Linked DNA regions of Homo sapiens: region 1 is linked to region 2. Evidence: fine-mapped expression QTL. Tissue or cell type: whole blood. Region 2 holds a variant in brackets; the other region holds the start of a gene. All regions are shown on one strand. Distances are between the middles of the regions.

Region 1 (8,102 bases), 27 kb after region 2:
TGTTGAAGATGGAGGGTTCCATGATATAATCCCGGGTGGAAAATTTATGCAGGCATTCTTGCTGAACCTCCGCATCATCCTCTCCTTCTCCAGAATCATCCTCCTGCTGTTGGTAAATGCGAAGAGCCAGGATATTTTTTTCATTAATACAAATACCCTAATCTCACCTTAAATCGTATAATGCTGCCCATTTTGAAAGTATTCTACACACATTATTTCATTTGACTTTCATGACAATTTCATGAAATGGGCTGGACAGATAGTGAGTGGCTAGGAAAATGGGATCCAGGATCACACTGAGTGGGTGTGTACAACTCCTCCCTGGCAAACCGCGTTCCATGCTCACACAAGTTACCCAACCTCTCTGAGTGTCCATTTCCTCCTCTGTTAAGTGAAGATAATAATAACGCCTATTCCCATTTGGCTGTTGTGAGGATTCCATGAGCTAATTTTTGGAAGAACCCAGCATAATCCCTGACATTTCGTAACAGTGCAATAAATAGTAAACTATTATTATTATTGTTTTCACTATTCTTATTTCATACATGCCACTGAAGAGTAACAACCTGATTCTTGAAAGCGTGAGCCATCACTTACCATTAGAAAGTAAAGACCACTAACTCGCCTTGCATCCACACTTCTGGCTGGACTCCAGTCCCAATTCTATGTGGAAGCAACTTCAGGCCTGTCACTCCATCTAAGGGCAAAGCAGGCTTCTTCACCTGCTAATGACCATGTGAGGATGGACTGTGATCCCAAACCCTGTCCAACTTTAACACTGCCACCCTAACTAACAAGCAGATGCTTTTTGAACATTCAGTCTGCACTATGCTCATCAACCAAGGAACCTAAGAAAATGTAAGACAAGACAAGGCTTTTTCCATCAAAGAAGTTCACAAACTAATAGGAGAGACAGACCTCCATGCAACCTACTCTAACATAATGGGGCAAGAGCTGGGCCAGGGGTCAGCAAACTATGACCCAGAGCCGAATCCAGCCCTCTCCTATTTTTGCAAATAAACTTTTACGGAACACAGCACACCCATTCTTTTAAGGACTGTCTATGATTGCTTTCCCCCTGTAAGGGCAGAGGTAAGTAGTTAAGACAGAGACAGGCACAACCTAAAATATTTGCTATCTAGCCTTTTTCAGAAAAGTTTGCTCACTCCTGATCTGGACTAAGATCCTAAAAGCAGTGCTTTGGGAGCAGACAGAACCCGATGACTTCCCAGTAAAAGCTGTGGAGTCTTCTCTCAGACCAGATTTGCATGGGGAACGCTGAGCCCCTAAGGGCATGACAGAGGCCGGACTTCACCCCGAGCTTCATTCCCACGTTGTCTGTTCTCTTGGGCTTCCACCCTGGGCACTCACCTACCTGCCTCTTCCACCACCTCTTGGGTCATGCTATCTACCTGCTCACCAATCTAGAATTAGCCTGGATCTCTCTCTCCGTCTTTCCTCTCTTAAGCTCCAGACTCAGGTATCCAACATTCCATTCTCATTTCCAGTCAGATGTCTCACAAGTATCCAAACTCTTTAGGTCCAAAACTGACATCTCTTCCCTAGAAACAGATCTTCTTCCTACAACCCATATTTCCGTAAAGGTATCCTTCATATATCTACTTGTTACCCCCCAAACCTGAAAATCATCCTCAGCTTCTCTCCCTCACCCCACCCCCACATCCTGTCACAAAGACTCATCAGTTCCATCTCCCATCTGTCTATCCAAGGTGGTCCTTCTTTCCACATTTGCCTCTGCTCTTCCTTATTTTTTGTATGCTTGCAGTAGCAACATTCCCCTGAAGTCTCAGTCTTATTCCTTCCTTTCAATCATCTTTCACACCGTGGCCACAGTGATCTTTGTAAGCCACAAAACTGACGTCTCTCTCCTGCTTAAAGATTCCCATCTCCTTCAGGAAAAAACGCCCCAGCTCTAGCAAGAGCGTGCCCTTCCCACTTCCCCTGTCCGTTCTGACCTCTCACCACTCCCCATTTGCAATCTGTAGCAGGACTCATCTATTTGCATGTCTGCAGCTCTTAGTTTCCACCATCCAGACTGAACATCACGGTGGCCTCCTTACACATCTTCCTACCTCCCACTATGTAACATGGCATCAGGCGAACAGAATTTGGGTCACCAACTATCTTTTAAAATCCAGTTCTTGCCACCCTCCTAACACCTTTCCTAACTTTCTGTACCTCTTCCAAGCAGAGTCACAGAATAAACATGAAATGAACGTCTGGTCCACCCCCCTCATCCATGAGAGCCCACTGGTGTCAGTGGGCCAAATTAGGATCATGATTAAAATTCCCCAAACATGAGACTCCCCAATCTCCCATCAGTGGGGTCTAGGTCTGACTGCACAAACTTGGGCAAATAACTCACGTGCTTGGTCTATAAAGTGAAGGTACTGATTAGATGGCCCTTATATGCCCCAGTTCTAACACTTTATGACTCAAAGCCTCAAGGTGAGGCCGGGCACGGTAGCTCACACCTGTAATCTCAGCACTTTGAGAGGCGGAGGCGGGCAGATTACTTGAGGCCAGGAGTTCGAGACCAGCCTGGCCAACATGGTGAAACCACATCTCTACTAAAAATACAAAAATTAGCCGGGTGTGGTGGCACCGGCCTGTAATTCCAGCTACTTGGAGAATCACTTGAACCCAGGAGGTGGAGGTTGCAGTGAGCCAAGATGGCACCACTGCACTCCAGCCTGGGTGACAGAGTGAGACTCCGTCTCAAAGAAAAAAAAAAAAAAAAAAGGCCGGGTGCGGTGGCTCACGCCTGTAATCCTAGCATTTTGGGAGGCCGGGGCAGGCGGATCACCTGAGGTCAGGAGTTCAAGACTAGCCTGGCCAACGTGGTGAAACACTGTCTCTACTAAAATACAAAAATTAGCCGGACATGATGGCGGATGCCTGTAATCCCAGCTACTCAGGAGGCTGAGACGGGAGAATTGCTTGAACCCAGGAGATGGCAGTTGCAGCGAGCTGAGATCAAGCCACTGCACTCCAGCCTGAGCAGCTAAGCGAGACTCTGTCTCAAAAAAAAAAAAAAAGAAAAAAAGGCTCAAGGTGATATACTAGATGCCCCAAACACCAACCTACCACTAAGCTAATTCACACCTTCTCATCTGGACCACTTTGGTAGTCAGCAATTTGACGAAGTGGCAACGGAGGCAAAGGATGTGGGTTTGGGTCCCCTCTCCTTCCTTTATTAGTTTCATGACCTTGGGCAGGTCAGTAAGTCTTTTCGTCTCATTTTCTACACTTACCAGATAAGTAGGGTAACACCCAACTCAAAATCCTGTGTGTGGAAGGGGATAACGCATGACACACATGGCCCAAGCTCTCAGTTAGCTAAGTCTGACTCTATCCACTCCACCCTAAGCCTCCAACACTGTGAAATGATCCAACATGCAAATCTACTCGTGTCACTCCCTGCCCCAAACTCCTGAACAAGCCATACCATTCAGCAGCTCTCCAAGGATCTTCAGAACCTGCTCCCTACTGACCTCCTGCCACTGCTTCCACCAGGCAGCTAACATCACAGGGCTTCTTTCAGTTCCAGAAACACATCGCCCGCCTTGGCATTTTAGACCATGGCTCCGAAGCCGCCATCACACCACCACCCATGTTTATCAACGTAAGCCCCACTTCATCCTTTATTCCCTTATAATACCACTTCAAAATGCACCAGACATCCCCAATCTTGATTGTTGTTAAAAATGCAAGTTCCTGGGCCACGAGCAGTGGCTCACGCCTGTAATCCCAGTACTTTGGGAGGCAGAGGTGGGTGGATCACCTGAGGTCAAGAGTTTGAGACCAGCCTGGCCAACAAGGTGAAACCCCCTCTCTACTCAAAATTTTAAAAATTAGCTGGGCATGGTGGTGGGTGCCTGTAATCCCAGCTATTCGGGAGGCTGAGGCAGGAGAATCGCTTGAATCCGAGAGGCAGACGTTGCAGTGAGCCGCGATGGCGCCATTACACTCCAGCCTGGGCAACAAGAGCGAAACTCCACCACAAAAAAAAAAAAAAAAAAAAAAAAAAAAAAAAATGCAAGTTCCCAGGCTCCCGTCCAGACCAACTGTTGGGCCGTCTCCAGGGGAGGGACGTGAGAAGCTACATTTCAATCATGCGCCTCAGTTGGGTCTTTAGAGTAAGGTGGGGACACACTGTCCAGACTAGAGCTACCTGCCCTGGCTCTGCAGTCCCTGTCCTCAGGGTGGAACAGTGATCCCTCCTGGGCTTCCACCCCAAACCCTGGAAGGTCAAGGCCCGAAAATCCTTTCCATCAGTTTGCCCAAAAACAGATGAAATCAGCCCAAGGTGCTGAAGAGTACAGTTTATAAAACAGTAAAGCACATGTAGGAATGCCCTAAGTTCTACTTTTTCCTCATGATGCTGCTGTGAAGTTTTTCCACTTTATTTTTGTTTAAAAGTCTGTGAGCTCCGGACCCAACCCTCCACCTTAGCGTTGGTGTCCCGCCCGCCGCGGGGGTCGCAGGGCCGGCGCCGGGCCTGGCCGGAGCGAGGGGGTACTGGGGGCCTCGGGCCGCCCCGCGCCAGAGCCTCCGGCGCCTCACCCCCACCCCAAGGTCCTGCAGGCGAGGAGGCGGGGACCCCGGCGGCCGCGCCGCGGGACCCCGGGCGGGCGGGGGCGGGGCGGGCTGTGCTTGAACCACACGGTGACCGCGCGGGCCGTGCGCGCGCACACCCCCCGCACGCCCGCAGCCTCGCGCCGCGCGGCCTCTCCGGGAGTGGGGCCGGCCCGCCGGCGGCGGAGACGAACGATTCTCTCTAGGGTGCGCCCAGTGCCCCGCCTCACCTGGCCGCCGTCAGCCTCGTCGCCCCACTCGGCCGCGCTCCCGTAGTAGTCCTCGTCCATGATGGCGCCCGGCACGGCCCCCGCCATGCCCTCCCGCGAGCGAGCGCGGCGCATGCGCGAGGCGGGGACGGGCGGGCGGGCGCACGCGCGGCCGCGCGCCTCGGCCCGGGCGGGAGGCGGGGCCTGGAAGAAGGGGCGGGGCCTGGAGGAAGGGCAGGGCCGCGGGCTCGGCACTGGGAACAAAGGGGACCGGCGGAAGGAACGCCCCCAGTCGATCCCGGAGCGATGCCCGGGTGGACCAGGGGCTTAGCTCCGGAGAGAGGTTTCCCACTGGATTCGTGCACAGCCCCTCCCCTGCGGCGCCGGCTCTGCGAGCCCCAGTTTCCTCATCTGGCAGCTGGAAACAAATCCTTCCGGAAGTGTCCAGGACCCACGAAAGTGTTTTAATTTCTTTTAGTTTTGGTAAAAAGTACTAAACGCGACCGGGCGTGGGGGCTCACGCCTGTAATCCCAGCACTTTGGGAGACCGAGGCTGACGGATCACTTGAGGTCAGGAGTTCGAGGCCAGTCTGGCCAACATGGTGAAACCCCGTCTCTGCTCAAAATACAAAAATTAGCCGGGCGTGGTGGCATGCGCCTGTAATCCCAGGTACTCGGGTGACTGAGGCAGGAGAATCGCTTGAACCCGGGAGGCGGAGGTTGCAGTGAGCCAAGATCGCACCATTGCACTCCAGCCTGAGCGACAGAGCGAGACCCTATCTCAAATAAATAAATACATACATAAAAAGGGCAGGGCACGGTGGCTCACGCCTGTAATCCCAACACTTTGGGAGGCCGAGGCGGGCGGATCACCTGAGGTCAGGAGTTCGAGACCAGCCTGGTCAACATGGTAAAACCCCTTCTCTACTAATAACACAAAAATTAGCTGGGCATGGTGGCGGGCGCCTGTAGTCTCAGCTACTCAAGAGGCTGAGTCACGAGAACCGCTTGAACCCAGGAGGTGGAGGTTGCAGTGAGCCAAGATCACACCACCGCACTCCAGCCTAGGCAACAGAGTGAAACTGTGTCAAAAAAAAAAAAAAAAAGAAAAAGAAAAAGAAAGAAAGAAGAAAGAAAGAAAAGAAAAGAAAAAAGAAAAGAGAAGAAAAAGTACTGAATGCAGTGGAAAGTAGCATTTTTAATTTTTTATAAAGTGGAAGATAGGCCCACAAAGCAAAAGTGCCCAGAGCTGACAAAAATCTCTGGAGAAAGGACCTCTCTGGTCGTTGCCAAAGGGAGCAGCTGACGCTGTTGTAAAGCCCGCAGCTCGATTCCCAGCGTGAAGTAGGGGGTGAGAATATGACAGCCTCCTGATGATCACGGAAAGGTTTTTGTTTGGTTGTTGTGTTTTTGTTTTGTTTTAATTTTAGATTCGGTGCGTGTGCAGGTTTGTTACATTGGTATATTGCGTGATGCTTCTAATCCTTTCGGCAACTTTTTCAGCCTTTACCCCCCTCCACACCTTCTGCCTTTTGGAATACCCCATGTCTGTTGTTCCCATCTTTGTGTCCAAATCACAGAAAATTTTAAACAGGGAGATTAACGCCATAAAATCTGGATGCTTTGAAAGGTAACGCCCGTGGCTGAGCGCCGCGGCTCACACCTGTAATCCCAGCACTTTGGGAGGCCAAGGTGGGAGGATTGCTTGAGGCAAGAGTTTGAGACCAACCTGGGCAACATAGCGAGACACCGCCCCCCCCCTTCCCCCGCCCCCAGCCAGGTATGGTGATGCACGCCTGTAGTCCTAGCTGCTCGGGAGGCTGAGGCAGGAGGATTGCTTCAGCCCAGGAGTTTGAGGTTACAGTTTGCTATGGTCGTGCCATTGCATTTCAGCCTGTGTGACAAAGTGAGACCCTGTCTATAAAGAAAAAAAAGAAAGGTAATGCCCATGTCAGTAAGGAAAGAGTATTAGAGAAAAGAGCTCCAGAAGATTGATAATAGTGACTACTTTTGGAGAACTTATCAGGGAATATGTCTTCATTTATTCAACAAATGTTTATTGAGTGTTCCCTAAGTGCCCAGCACTGCGCTGCTCCCTGGAGCTCGGTGAACAAGTTGGACCTGATCCTTGTCCGGGTAGAGCCTACATTCTACTGAAGGAGCTGAATGGGGGGAGGGGGTGGGGGGAACAAATAAGATAAAGACAGAAGGTGATCAGTGCTAGTATTCTGTGATAATAGAATCTTCTTGGGGAGATCAGAGATGGCTGCTGAGCAGCTTACATTTGAACTGAGTCATGTCATGAAAGGGGCAAGCTAGCTAAGACCCAGGCAAGAGCATTTCCAGAGAGCAGAACTGCCAGGGCAAAGGCCAGGCATGCGTACTTGGAACAGAAAGGCCACTGAGAGCGGCACCTGGCAGGCCAAGGAGAAATCTAGATGAGGTGGGCAAGGCAGGGAGGGCCAGATCTTGGGAGGGAGTTAGGTCTGTATTAACTGAGGGCCATCTCTAAGGATTGAATGTAATGAGGTATGCCAAGCACTGAGCAGAGAGCTTGCACATGGTAGGTGCTCAGCAAGTATGCATCATTATGAGGAAGATGAAACGTTTGGATTTTTTTTTTCTTGCTCTGAGCGGGTGAAAGGACATATCTGAATTTTCAAAGGCATTTCTCCTAGCTGAGGGGGCCTTACAGAAGGAAGTGAGAAGGTGAGAATGTAAATTAAGAAGCTTCCGTGAGCATTAATGGAGGGGGTTGCTGAGAAGGAGCTGTGGCTAACTGCTGTGAAGTTGGGGTCAAGTCCAGAGGATACAACAGCCTTGGGGGTGGGAGATGGGGGCCAGGAACAGGGGCAGGGAAGATGCTGCTGTGACCCCCAGCTTGTGTGCCTGGGGATGGCCCATGGCTGAGACAGGGAACCCAGGAGGAGGGCAGGTTTCTCCATGGGATGATAATGAGTTCATTGGGTTGTGCTGAGTTAGAGGTGCCAACAGAACACCCATGCGGAGATGTCCTGCAGGTGGTTGGAGGTGGAAGTCTGCAGCTCCGATTCAAAGGATCCAGCTCCAGCTTCTATTCACAAGATTAAAGTGTATTAAGTTAATGAGTGCCCCTGCTGTTGGCTTGTTTCAGGGTTCATTTTCACTTGCTTTCTCAAAATGTTGGAAAGAATAGATGGCTGTTAAACTCCTCCTACCTCTCCTCTTAGATTTTTTAAAAAATAGTGCCAGAATTGAAAGCGGACCAATTAATGTATGTATAACTAATTGTGCCTACGGAATTGGGGATTATTC
Region 2 (8,089 bases):
GGCCAGCAGAGCCTCTGTCAGATGGCAGAAAGGGGAGGGAAGGGGAGAGGTGGGCTGGCCGTGTGAAGCTGGCCTGAGTGCCCGCATGGTCCCTGCAGCTTGGAGGCTGAGCCCACCTGTCCGCAGCCTCCCCAAGGGCTTTCCCCAGTGCATCACACACTTACCCAGTGCACTCACATTCTCAGGCCTCTGCAGACACTCTTCCTTCTGCTGAGTCTCCTTCCAGCACCTTCCATGACTGTCATTATTCAATCCCAACTCACTGGATACCTAAAAGAATGGTCCCAGACCAAACTTCTCCAGAGACCCTCCGTCTCTCCTGTTCCCCGTTTTAACTGTTTGCAAGCACTTCCTACCTCCTGAGCATTTTACTTTTCCACATGTTCCCTTATGCAGAAAACATAAGTCCTTGCAGACAGGGACTTTGTTCACTGCCGAATCCCCGGGGAAGAAAACAGTAGCCTGCACGTACTAGGTGCTCAACAAATATTTGCTGACAGCCTAACTTTAGAGGGCAAACAAATTCAATCGGGTAGTCATTGAGTGCCCCTTTGAAAGACTTCCTGGTGAGTTCATGGGTGGGCTGTGTCTGTTACATGCTGTGCTGCACAGGGTGTGTCCCAAAGGTGATACTGATGAGGCTGCCTTCATCAATGTCAGCCCAAGGAGCCACATCCACTCCCAAGCAAGTGTGCACCACCAGTCACTGTGCAACTGTCAGAGGCGTTTGAACCAGAGCGACTCCATCTTGAATACAGACTGGGTAAAATAAGGCTGAGACCTCCTGGGCTGCATTCCTTGGAGGTTAGACATTCTACATCACAGGATGAGATAGGAGGTCGGCACAAGGTACAGGTCACCAAGACCTTGCCAATAGGCCAGGCACGGTGGCTCAGGCCTGTAATACTAGCACTTTGGGAGGCTGAGGCGGGTGGATCGCCTGAGGTCAGGAGTTCAAGACCAGCCTGGCCAACATGGTGAAACCCCGTCTCTACTAAAAAAAGCCAAAAAAGTAGCCACGCATGGTGGCAGGCACCTGTAATCCCAGCTACTCGGGAGGCTAAGGCAGGAGAATCACTTGACCCCAAGAGGCAGAGGTTGCAGTGAGCCAAGATTGTGCCATTGCCCTCCAGCCTGGGTAACAAGAGCGAAACTCTGTCTCAAAAAACAAAAACAAACAAAAAACCTTGCTGATAAAAGGATGTGATAAAGAAGGCAGCCAAAACCCACCAAACCCAAGATGGCGATGAAAGTGACCTCTGGTTGTCCTCAGTGCTGATTATATGATAATTATAATGCATTAGCATGCTAAGAGACACTCCTACCAGCACCATGACAGTTTACAGATGCCACAGCAGCATCAGGAAGTTACCCTGTATGGTCTACAAAGCGGGGGAACCCTCAGTTCCTGGAATTGCCCACCCCTTTCCAAAAAACTCATGAATGATCCACTCCTTGTTCAGTGTATAATGAAGAAGTAACAGTAACTATAAATAGCTGAGCACCCCGTGCTGCCGCTCTGCCTGTGGAGGAGCTATTCTTTTATTCCTTTGCTTTCTTAATAAACTTGCTTTCACTTTATGGACTTTCCCCGAATTCCTTCTTGCGTGAGGTCCAAGAACCCTCTCTTGGGATCTGGGTTGGGATCCCCTTTCCCATAACACAACCAGGCCAGGATGTGATGCATGGTGGTGCTTGGGGACAGTGGCATGGTGGATTGCAAACCTGGCCCGCCCTATCTGAAGGCCTGCACTGCAGAGATATCTGGGTGTTAGCGAGTGCCTCTGACCCGTTGACCAAGTGGATCAAGAGGAACTCCTGTAGCTGGTGAGGGAACCGTCGTGCCCTGCAAAACCAGCCTAGCCTAGCGAGCATTGTCGGCATCCACCCAAACAAATGCCGGTATCCAGGATGTGGCTAAACTCAGGAATGTGGAATAATAGGAAATGTCTGCAGCTTGCCGGGGTGGAAGCCAGACAATATGGCACAAAGGAAGAAGAAAAAGGATTTCGAGGCCATTCCACAGTCGATGAAAACTCATCTGTGTTCTCCTCCTCCAGGTTGGGAAGGTGGGCCAGCCGTGGCCTGAGTGCTGATCTTTATCAGAATGAGGAGAAAAATCAGCCTTATTTTTAGAAATGAATAGGCTTTTGTGTCTGTGGCCTTGGATCATGTGTTTTCCAGGAGAATTCATGGGGTTAAAAAAAAAAAAAAAAAAAGGGACTGGATTGGAACCTGCCACCCAGGAGCCTCGTGCTGAGCACAGGTCACCTGACATCTCCAGAGGCTCAGTCTTTTCGCCAGTAGAATGGAGTAATAGCATCTGCCTCCCAACCCCCACCCCCACCTCACAGCATTGTGCAAAGGATCAAATGCGGCTGCACAGTCCTCTAGAATGTCATTGGCTCAGCCCTCTGCCCTCAAGCACCACTGGGAGCAGGAATGACTCCATTACCTCCAGGAAGGAAAACCCAGGATAGGTGCCAAGCTTTCCAGGCAAAGTGGTTTCAGGGGAGACGCCTTGCTCTAAATACCTACTCAATTCTGCCCCAAGCTGGAAGGCGGTGGCACACAGCTGCTTATAAAGAGCTGCTAGAAGCAATGCTTAGGCAAGTAGGGCCTCAGAGGTAGGAAGGTCCAAGTGCCCTGCCCCAAGCCTCTTCGGATCCCGGCCCAGATGAGAAGAAGAGTCAGTATCCACAAAACCACCTTGCAGGCACCTGCAGCCAAGTCAGGAGGAAACACCTTTCCGGTTTCCAAGAGTCCCCAAGCTGCTCTGCAGGTGAGTCTGCTTTGAAGAGAGAGACACAGCTCTGGGGCTAAACTCAACCCCCAGCAAGCAGTCCCCAGCAAGAAATGGCTGGGGTGGCCTGTCTATCAGGTTCCCAATGTGCTCCCTCCTCTTTTTCCAGTCCCAGACACCTCCTGGTTTTATCTGTGTGCCCTTCAGAGAACTCCTCCAGCTAAACATCCTTCACTAATAGCAGCACTGGAATTTGAGTTTGGGTGGGTTTGTGGCCATCCCCAACCCCGCCCCCACAAGGAACATGTTTAAGATCTTGCATCGAGTTAAGGGAAAAACAAAAACAACCAACAAAAACCCCAAAACCAAGAAAACCAAAAATCCTATTTAGGATCCTCTGCTGCACGATTTTAGTAACCCCCAAAATGACACAGCCCGCCAGCTTCTCGGAGCAGTCTGGCAGCCAGACATGCATCCACTCGACTAGGGCCAGGTTCAGAGATGAGGAGCCCTGTCTCTGCGTGGTTTGCTGTGTTGGACCCATGAGAAGAGGCTGGAGAGATAAGTCTCATCAGGCCCCCTTCCTTCCTTCTTGGCTTGAAAATGATGATTTCAGACCAGGCGCGGTGGCTCACACCTGTAATCCCAGCACTTTGGGAGGCCGAGGCGGCAGGATCACGGGGTCAGAAGCTCGAGACCAGTCTGGCCAACGTAGTGAAACCCTATCTCTACTAAAAATACAAAAACTTAGCCAGGTGTGATGGTGTGTGCCTGTAATCCCAGCTACTCAGGAGGCTGAGGCAGGAGAATTGCGTGAACCCAGGAGGTGGAGGTTGCAGTGAGCCGATATTGCTCCATTGCACTCCAGCCCAGGTGACAGAGCGAGACTCTGTCTCCAAAAAAAAAAAAAGAAAAGAAAAAGTAAATGATGATTTCAAATGGATAGGCTCCCTCCCTCTCTTCCTGCCCTATTCCATCAGATTCTGATCTTGAATTGCTTCTATGTTAGGGAAACCCAGGGGGCACAAGTTGTCAACTTTGGACGTCCTTTTTGTTACCAGCCTAAAAATATCCTTCCCTTTAACCAACTTTCAATAGGGTAAATCCGGA[G/A]AGTCTCCTCTTTGGAACTCCCCAGATAAATTAAGCTTTGTGCCAGCATTTGGGAGCAGGACTGTGAATGTTTATTCCCCTTCCTGACCATCTCACCCCTCCTCCTGACCCCTGTTTGTGAGTTTGATTTGCCAGAGGCTCTGGGCTGAAAGCGGGTGATGTACAGGACTTGTGATGGAGCAGGTGTGGTTGCTGTCATCAGACCCAGCTACATAATTTGCAGGGCCCAGGGCACAGTGAACCTGGAGAGCCCCTCGTTCAGCTCTGCATTACACTTCTGGACTTAGGGCCTCATGTGACTGCAGGGGTCGTGTGCCTGCCTTGCTGACCATGCCTGTCATACCTTCTACATGCGCTGGACCTGCTCGGAGAGTCTCGGGGCATCTTCAGAGCACCCCAGCTCTCCCCATGCTACAGGAAAGAAAAGCTTACACCTTGGGTGCCTTTTCACCCAGATTCAGGGACCAGGGCCCAGGACATCACAGCTCAGGCATCAGAGGCCAAGCACAAGGGGCCCTCCCCTCTCCAGGCTTGTTTCTCATGCTGTAGAATGTGCTGTTGGACTTCACAGTACCTGGATCATAACTATGGGTACCTGGAGGGAGGGGCACGATATCTCTTACCACACAATTTTGTGAGTTCTTAGCTTTTTCTTTAGAAGAAGCCAAAAACCGGCCGCTTTGGTAGATGCCACCTGATGACCTGGCAAGGGCAGCTGTGTCTGGGTTTCTTCCTCACAAGGACCCAGCTCCTATAGTCAGGGAGGCCAGAGGGTTGACATGGGAGGAAGAAAGGCCCCCTCTTGGCAATTCTCTTTCCACTCCTTTTATGCCCAGAGGTTGGGAGGCCTCGCTCCCACCCCCACCGCCAGCTCAAGCTTGGGGACTTCTCCCAGGATGGCCACCCCACCCCGCCTTCTGATGACTGATGGACACTAATGGTTTCCATGAGCGACTTGCCAAACAAATAAGAGACACATCAGTAGGTAGAGCCCCGGGGCCACACTTTGCCTCAGTGACCACTTTTTGGGGAACAAGGACTGAAACTTCTGGGCTGACGAAGCAGCTCTCCAGCCTTGCTCTCCACTCGGACAGTCATGCGGGGATTCCATGGCCACCTCAGCGCTTCCGGGAATGGTCATGGAAGCTTCTGGAAGTCAGGAGGCAGCCACTGTGACTTCCCCTTGCCCACGTGGCACGCTTGGAATGTGGTGAGTGCCACTGAGTATGGAGAGAGTCAGGCAAGCTCATCTGTGGGCCCTGTGCCAAGGGCCCCCAGCAGGGGCCTGTCAGGTCGCAGCCCAGAATGCCGGGCCCTGTTCTTACCAGAGAAGAAGGCCATGGTGTGGGCCCAAGGGCCATGACAAACAGAGGGGCCGCAGGGAGCGAGAAGCCCTCCCCCAGTTACAAAACCACGTCCTGGGGGGCCACTTCTGCTTTTGGTTCCTCATTTGACTAAGAAGAGTTTCGTTAGCAGAAAACCTTTTCAAGGCGTCTTTGGAAGTCACATTGGATAACTCCTGATGCCTGCGCCAAGTGGAATCTTCCTTTGGGGCATTTTCTAGAAGGATCCCTCCTTCCTTCTCTGCAAAAGGGAACCGTCCCCCCGAAAGGGCCTGGGCCTTTGGGAAAAGGGGTTTAGAAAGCCAGGCGCGGGGACCCTTCTTTGGGGGCGGTGGCCGCATCCCAGGATCCCTTCCTAGGGGAGGCCTGGGCCCAGATGTGAGGCTGGGGGCCTCTCCCCAGGGCTCAGGGCCCCAGGAATGCAGGGCCAAGGGGGCCCATGAGCCTGCGGCCCCCCACCCCGAAGCCAGGAACCCCGGCAAATGAGTCCAGCCGGACAGTCCCGCGCTCAGGGCGGCGGCCGGCGGCGGGGTCAGGCTGGGGTCTGCCCGGCGACCTCGCGCCTGGCCCGCGAGTTCAGGTGCCCCGGAGCCAGGGAGGGAGCGGGGCGCGGAGCCGGGCGGGGAGGGCAGGGGTCACCGGGCGGGGCAGGAGCAGCGATGGGACAGCCCCGCCCCGGGGGAGTGTCCCGGCCTGGCCGCCGCAGCCTTAAGGGCCGGGCGGGGCAGGGGCCCAAAGTGCGGGGTCGGCCGGGTGCTGGGCCGAGGCCGAGGCCGGGGCGGGATCCAGAGCGGGAGCCGGCGCGGGATCTGGGACTCGGAGCGGGATCCGGAGCGGGACCCAGGAGCCGGCGCGGGGCCATGGCGAGGCGCGGGCCAGGGTGGCGGCCGCTTCTGCTGCTCGTGCTGCTGGCGGGCGCGGCGCAGGGCGGCCTCTACTTCCGCCGGGGACAGACCTGCTACCGGCCTCTGCGGGGGGACGGGCTGGCTCCGCTGGGGCGCAGGTGGGCACCGGCGGGGAGGCAGCCCTGGGGGGACGGGAGGCCCATCGCCCGGGCCAGGCGCGCGCTCTGCCTCCTGGGGGCCCTGCGTCGCCAACAGGCCTTGGAAGGTCAGATCCAGCCGCTTCGTTTTGGGGGTCGCTCCTTCTCTTCCACATCCAGGGTGAGCCCTGATGTTTGTGGGGTTGGACAAGCCCCACCTGGCCAGAAAGCCAGGCCAGCCCCACCTCCTCGGCCTCTGGGGGTGGCCCTTACGGCGCGGCATGGCTGGGGGAGCAACCCGGTTCCCTCCTTTCGGGGGTGCCCTGCCTCCTTCACATTCTGAGAGCGCTGGAGCCTCCTAGTGTGAGGTGGGCCCACACCTGGCTCACCTCTGGTGATTGTGGCCCCACTCCCATGCCCTCAGGTGTTGGGAAAGGCGGGAGGGCCCTACCGAGGGCTTCCTGGGCCCACGGCCCCCGGGAGCCCCAGCACCGATCTGGGTGGGGATGATCTCTTCTCAGCACATACCCCCGGCCTCATGAGTACCTGTCCCCAGCGGATCTGCCCAAGAGCTGGGACTGGCGCAATGTGGATGGTGTCAACTATGCCAGCATCACCCGGAACCAGCACATCCCCCAATACTGCGGCTCCTGCTGGGCCCACGCCAGCACCAGCGCTATGGCGGGTGAGTGGCCGCCCTTTGACTGTGGGCCAGGAAAGCCCATCCCGGCTGCCTGTTTATAGGCCCAGGCAGCTCAGCCCGCGGTTCCAGGGGCCTGTGATTCAAGGCCAGGTCAGCCTGGGCTGGGGTGCTAAGGCCGAGGAGCGCGGGCCTTTGCCCTCTGCTGAGGTGACCCAAGCTGGGTCATTCTGGGGCTTTTGGGTGACAGGCAGGACTAGGACTGAATCCCAGTGACAAGTGGCTGCCAGGTGCCCTCTCTCCCCCAAAGCTTGTGACCTCAGCCATTGGGATAGAAACAGAAATGCAAAATCACTGAGTCCCCAGGCTGTATTTGAGGATACAGAAGTAAACTGCTTCTCAGCACAGATGAAAGCCTGTCCTGGGCTTGGAATATTGGGTGAGGCTAGTTGGCTACAGCCCATGGCCTAACCTGGTCACTACCTCCAGCCTGGTGGGTTTCTATCTTAGGCTTTTGGCAGGAGTAGGGTAGGGAGGCTCTTAGCAAAGAGGAAGGGGAAACTAAGGCCCTCCCTATCAACGAGGCTGCTGCACCCTGCTTTGGGAGAGAAGGCGGGAGAAGGGACAGCTGCAAACCAGCCCCAGGCCCACCCCACAGCATTTGGAAGGGACTCTGCTATCCCCTCTCCAGTCACAGCACAGGGTCCAGGAGCCTGGATTTCCCCTGGAGATGGGACTTGCGTGGCCTGGGAGTTTGGCCCATGAGCACTGTGGTGCTGTTGCCTCTTCCCTGGCCTTGGTCCTCATGGGTCAGGCCTGCTGTACACCCATGTGAAAAGGATAGACTACAGTGTGGCTGCCGCTGTGGGCCAAGGCTGGGGGACATGCGTTTGCGTGTGCTCCATCTCACTGACGCCTCCTCAATGCCATGATTGCTTCCAGTTTGCAGATGAGGAAGCAGGCTTTTTGCAGAGAGATGGGGAGGCTTGAGCATAGTGTGAGTGACAGCTGAGATTTGAGCCCGGAAGCCTGGGCTTTGTGCCAGGATGTCTGATGGGCTCAGTCTTGTGAATGAGGGGTTCTTGCTCTGGGGGTAGGGTCTGGACCCCAGAGCCAGCCAGCTGAAGCTGTGGCATCCGTGGCGTCTCCCCCGGGGGCTGGAACACACTTCTGATCGTTCAAAGGTCCCTTTGATGTGGATGGAGCTGGAAGGTCTGGGAGACCTTGGGCGGGCTGCAGGGTGTGGGTGGGGCTAGAGGCAGAGGACTGGG

What was found. PIP is the estimated chance that this variant, and not a neighbour inherited with it, causes the effect.
Region 1: it holds the start of NELFCD, and the variant in region 2 is fine-mapped to the expression of NELFCD in whole blood (TOPMed, PIP above 0.99).

The regions. Positions count from the first base shown.
Region 1 is chr20:58,978,097-58,986,198 of GRCh38, reverse strand. It overlaps NELFCD (negative elongation factor complex member C/D), which reads right to left and starts at 4,943. Exons shown (of 15, transcript NM_198976.4): 1 at 4,830-4,943; 2 at 1-106. The coding sequence starts at 4,889. RefSeq lists an enhancer at 4,185-4,685 and a silencer at 4,608-5,087.
Region 2 is chr20:59,005,096-59,013,184 of GRCh38, reverse strand. CTSZ (cathepsin Z) reads left to right here and starts at 5,931. Exons shown (of 6, transcript NM_001336.4): 1 at 5,931-6,199; 2 at 6,700-6,863. The coding sequence starts at 6,057. RefSeq lists enhancers at 4,678-4,757, 4,898-5,007, 5,028-5,187, 5,868-6,679, 7,828-8,089 and a silencer at 5,648-6,247. The variant G/A (reference allele first, on the strand shown) is at 3,854.